2 separate regions of the Homo sapiens genome follow, and region 2 is linked to region 1. The links come from fine-mapping of genetic effects on gene expression. Tissue or cell type: whole blood. Region 1 holds a variant in brackets; the other region holds the start of a gene. All regions are shown on one strand. Distances are between the middles of the regions.

Region 1 (2,765 bases):
ATGTGTCCTGGATTACTTCTGCAGTGATTTGGTGTTCTGCTTCCCTCTGCTGGGTAAAAATGGTACAGCAAAATTTCTGGAAAAGAAAACAACCAATTACATACCTGCAGGTTTTGCAGGTACTTGGGGGTGTGGTGAGCACGTGAATATGGCCAGGGGGTGTCCCTCAGTCAGAGTGCTCTCTAGCATTCCTTTCCATCACTCCATGGCCTCTGAAATATTTTATCTAAAAAGAGGGCCCAGTCATCCACTTCGATCTTTGCAAAGTATGGGAAAAGGAGAAACATCCAGTGATTAGATTTAGGATCCACAGGAGATCTTCATTTGACACAAAAATTACATCATTTGGGTCTAGACTATTTTAGTCTTGATGTGGGCTCCTGCCTGGGGTTTGGAAAAACCTGTATTTCTGCTGCTTTTTCCTCCCTTAAGTCAAACCTATTCAATAGCTTTAGCTGATTCCGTTGGAATTCTCTTTCCTTGTCAAAGCTGATGGAACATACTTCACAGGATATAAGCGTCATAAGAAGATGGTCTTCATTTTTTCATTGCCATTTTCCTAACTCTCATCACAGTGCCTAGCACTACATAGATGTCCATTAAATAGTTGGAAAATTACTGACCTACTACAGTTAATGAATGAATGACTCAGCGGTCACGTGGGAAAGTATTTTTCAAACTGCTGCAGATTTCCTTTAGCAGTTCTTCAAATCAACTTAATAGGTTGTGACCACAACGAGAATTATTTTTAAAAAAGAATAGAATAGAAACTATCCAGATGCATTCCATTTTGTTTGTAAGAATAATTCAGTGAAAGTTTTTTCAAGATATATACATACATATACATTCATAGTGAGAGTATATCATGATCACAGTCAAAATGCTTGAAAAGTAATTGACACAGTCCGGTTAGCTCATTTTACTAATGAGAAATCTCCAGACCAAAAGAGATCAAGGAACTATCAATTAATGACTGGTTCCCAATTGAGTATTTCTTACACTCCACCTCAATCCTCTGACATCTAGGAAAGACAGTCCTCATTTAGCTCAGGACAGATCATTGATCTTGGCATCCTGCTTGTGAGACATCTCTGGCATAATAAAGCTCTCAATAGTACGGAGAAAGAGAAGTGTGAGAATGTTGTGGTAGTAACATTGACTAGAGTTTTAGATTCCAAATGTGGACAAGAAGTGAATTCATTAATTCAGGTAAATGGCAACTTTGAAACAATAGGGAAATTGACACCTTCTATTGAGCATCTCAAACCACTTTCCTTTTCCCCTTTCACATATGCAGCATGAAACAGAAAGTAGAACAGGTTAGGTCCTGAGAGCCACATTCCTGTCCTGTTAAGAATATTTGTGTGAGTTTGGACAATTTACCTATCCAAGTCTCCTGCTTTTCATCTCTAAAATGAAAAGCCAGGACCAGAGCTAATGACCATTAATTGTTTGAGGGTCATGGGATCATTTTTAAAATCTTGTAAAAGCTTTAGACTTTGGTTCCCTAAAATGCACACATTCACATGTACTTATAATTTCATGTAGTTCATGAAAGCTCCAGTGAGTCTAGAAATCACTTCATTGAGTTTTCCCCTCTTTAAAATCTATGGAATGAAAAGTCTACAATATAGTACCCCAAAGGCAGAATGATGTAGCGGTAAAGTG[A/T]GTGGACTGTAGGAAACTCTCCAGGACAAATGATTGTTTGGCCAACAACTGAATTGGAAAGGAGTAAAAAGACTGGGGTAGAAGGGAAACCTATAAATTAGAAAGAGATTTAAGTAAAAAGTCAACCAATTGCAATGTGTGGGTCCTATTGGGATCCTGATTTAAACTAAATACTTTGAAATAATTATCACATTTGTGAGACCATTGGGAATTCAAACACAGGATATTTGATGGTAAGGAATTGTTCTTCAGTTTTTTAGACATGATAATGATATTGTATTCTTGTGTAAAGAGTCTTCATCTTTTAAGGATACATAAAAAGCATGTATTGTAGGAAAAATTATATAACATCTATAAAATTATAGATATTATATAATATCTTATATAATATATGAGATAGTATATATTATATAATTATATAATGTCCAAAATAATATGGACAGAAGCAAGTGAGTAGGGATGTAGATGAAACTAGATTCCCCATGATTTGATAATTGTGTATGTGATTACATGGGAATTCATCATACAATTCTATCTACTTTTGTATATGCTCAAGGTTTTTCGTAATAAAAAAATAAAAATAAAATATTATGGACTGCAGAGTCAGACTGCAGAGTTGCAAATCCTACCACTTACCAGCTCTGTGACCCTGCAGAAGTTTCTTAACCTTTTAATAGCCATAAACAGGAATAATAATTGTTATTCCCAATTCACAAGGTTGTTGTGAGCATTAAATGAGTTCATATATGTTAGCACTTACTGTAGTGCCTGGCACATAGTAAGCGCTCACTGACTGTTTGCTATTACCATTGTCTGGGGGAGCATGGTGAATGGACAGTTTGGTCAGTGACTGGGAATTGGAAAAACTATGGAAAATTAAAGACAGATTAAGGTAAAAAGAAAGGAGAAAAGGGGGGTAGGGAAATATGTTGGGCACTTTAGAGAATGCAACATGTAGAAGGGTTTGGTTTGTGTGAGTTAAGTCTTTCTTTCCTTTTTACCCACCCCCCACCTACCAACTCTGAATAAATATCACACACACACACACACACACACATACACATACACACACACACACACACACACACACACCCAGA
Region 2 (2,765 bases), 53 kb after region 1:
GCGTTTGTGGACATTGTTTGGTGTGTGTATTTGTTGTGGATTTTCCTCGTTTTTACCCAGAAACAGCTTCTCAGAGTACTGGAACAAGTAGTACACACGTGGGTCTAAAAATCACACATACAGTGTATTGTATGAGTTATCCCTAAGGCGCGCACACACACGGGTAGGTATTACCTGTACATTTGAAATCTCACTCCATAACTAATTTTTTTAGCCCAGGCTCTTCTCATTGGGTTCCTGGACAAAATCATTTCTAACCCAGCTAAGAAATATGGAATGCAACTTAGGTCAAGACAATGAGCCTGCCAAGGCTCCTGGACTTCCCACTAGTCTGCCAGTGCCTGGAGCACCCACAGCTGCACAGGAAGCTGCTGTGCCCGGCTACCTCCAGGTCCCCGCACCGGGTCGGCAAGGTGCAGCAGCCCCCAAACCCAGGCTCCGAATATTCCCCAAGCGCGCTGAGTGCGAGGTCCCCACCCGCCTCCGTCTGGGGATGCCCGGTCTTGCTCCCTAGACTAGATTCCCTCTCGAGTTATCTACGACCCTGTTCCACCGAGGGCGCTGCGTTCTCATAGCCTAGACAGACGTTCCCAGCGTTCCAGCCCCACCAGCCACCTCCGACACCCCACCGCGGCGTTCCCATCCAGCCAAGCCCCAGCATCCGCCCATTAGCCAGCTGCCGGCGGTTCCCATCACAACTCCGCTCCTCGCGCCCACCCTCTCAGAGAAGCCCCCTCCATCTTTCCCCGGCGAAAGCACATGCCTAGACCCACCCTACTCTTTCCGGGGTTCCCCTACCTCGGGCTGCCCTTCCTCGGGCTCTCCCTACCGCCCCGGGCTTCCTCTCCTCCGCACTCCCCTCCCAGGTTCCGTTCCCCTCCGCCCTGCGGAGGGCGCCCCACAAATGCGGACAGGACGCCCCTCGTTCTGCCCTGTCGGACTCCCCCACGTCTTGGTCCTGAATCTCCCGCCCTCCGGGCTCAGCCTTCCCAACATCGCGGTCCCCACACCCCCGCCAGCTCTCCAGGCTCAGGCTCCATGACTCCCCAGCATCGCAGTCCTGGCCACCCCACTACAGCCGTTCAGAGCTCCAGGGCTCCCCAGCATCCTAACCCGTCGTCCCCCCTTCCGGGCTTGGATTCGGAGACTCAACATCGGGGCCCTAAACTCCGGCCCCTGGCCTCAGGTTCCCAACGCTGCGACTCTGGACCTCCCCTCTGAGCTCGGGGTGCGAGGACTCCCCAACGCCGCGATCCTGACGTCCCCGCCTCCCGAGCTCGGGCCCCGGGGCTCCCCGACCTCGCGGTCCCAATACCCAACTCGACCCGTTCCGCGCCTCCCGCGGCGGGACTCACCGGCAGGGGCGGCGGCCGAGCCCGTGCGCGTAGCCCAGCCCGGCCCAGCCCGCGCTCCCGCCTCGGGGTCCCGGCCACGAGCTTCCCGCGGGTGGCTGTGACCGCGGCGGGCTCGGCTCGGGGGAGCGGCCGGGAGGAGGAGACCGCCGGGGGCGGGTGACGCCCAGCTCCGCCCCTTCCCGACCCGGGGGCGGGATGCGCAGACCCGCGCGCTCCGCTGCAGCCCGCGCCGCTGCCGCCGCTGCGAGGAAGTTGACTGACGCCGCTTCCTTCCACCCAGGACGCAGACCCTCGCAGTCCCTGGTAGCTGCAAAAAATCCGGAGAGTTTGAGACAGAGACGCCTTAACCGCCCTCATATTCTTTCCAAGAATTCACCTCTCAGGGGGCCATTTCCGAAGTCCCTCGGGAAGGGCGGAAAACAATAACAAACTTCATCTGCGCTGTCAAGACTGATTTAAATCCTGGCCTTTCTCTCACCACTCTCGGGTGAACGTTCAGGGTCATGCCCATGATATAAATAATGTGATGACATACCACGGAGGCCCTTGCAGACACTTCCACACCCCTAAGATACACCCGCCCAAGACTCGCGCCTCTCCCATGACTACATCACACAGACACATCTGACACTGACCTGCAGAAGATCCCACTTCTACCCTGTGTCCTCAATCCACAGCCTTCGTGGGTCCCAGCAATAGCGACCCACACATACAATCTATTGGAGGCAGGGTGCGGGGGTGGGTTCCACCTCCCGACTTGCTCCTCACCCACAATGTTCTCGGTATTTTACCATGAGAAAAAGACAGTTAAGAAGTTGGATGATCAATTAACAAATCAAGTTGGCTTTGCTTTTAAAAAGCCTTCTTCATTATCTGGAGAAAAGAGAAGGCCTGGGAAGATGGCCTGCTTACTGTAAGATTTTGTCAGACAGGCCTAATTCTGGTCTGCTTACTGTAAGATTTTCTCAGACGGCCTAATTCTGGTCTGCTTACTGTAAGATTTTCTCAGGCCTAATTCTGGTCTGCTGGTTCCCAAAACTTCTCTTATACCACCGTGTTTCAGTGACATGTTGCACAACATCTCACATTTGTACAATGTTTCCATTTTTCAAAACATTTTAGCCGAGTGTGATGGTTCACACCTGTAATCCCAGAACTTTGGGAAGCCAAAGTGGGCAGATTGCTTAAGCCCAGGAGTTCGAGACCAGCCTGGGTAACAAGGTGAGACCCTGTCTCTGCAAAAAATACAAAAATTAGATGGGCGTGGTGGCACACGCCTGTAGTCCCAGCTACTTATTCTCAGGCAAACATCACGAAGCAAAGAAAGTAATCTTAGCAGGATTATTTCAGTTCCATAAATGAAGACATTTAGACTCTGAGCAGTTGCACGGCAGGTTTGAAGCTGAGTCA

What was found. PIP is the estimated chance that this variant, and not a neighbour inherited with it, causes the effect.
Region 2: PAQR8 starts here. The variant in region 1 is fine-mapped to the expression of PAQR8 in whole blood (INTERVAL, PIP above 0.99).

Annotation. Positions count from the first base shown.
Region 1 is chr6:52,414,007-52,416,771 of GRCh38, reverse strand. No RefSeq gene overlaps it. Among named protein-coding and RNA genes, the nearest start is that of EFHC1, 5.0 kb to the left of the region's middle. RefSeq lists a silencer at 1-181. The variant A/T (reference allele first, on the strand shown) is at 1,669.
Region 2 is chr6:52,360,840-52,363,604 of GRCh38, reverse strand. PAQR8 (progestin and adipoQ receptor family member 8) reads right to left here and starts at 1,454. Exons shown (of 2, transcript NM_133367.5): 1 at 1,356-1,454. RefSeq lists silencers at 1,202-1,691, 1,865-2,050.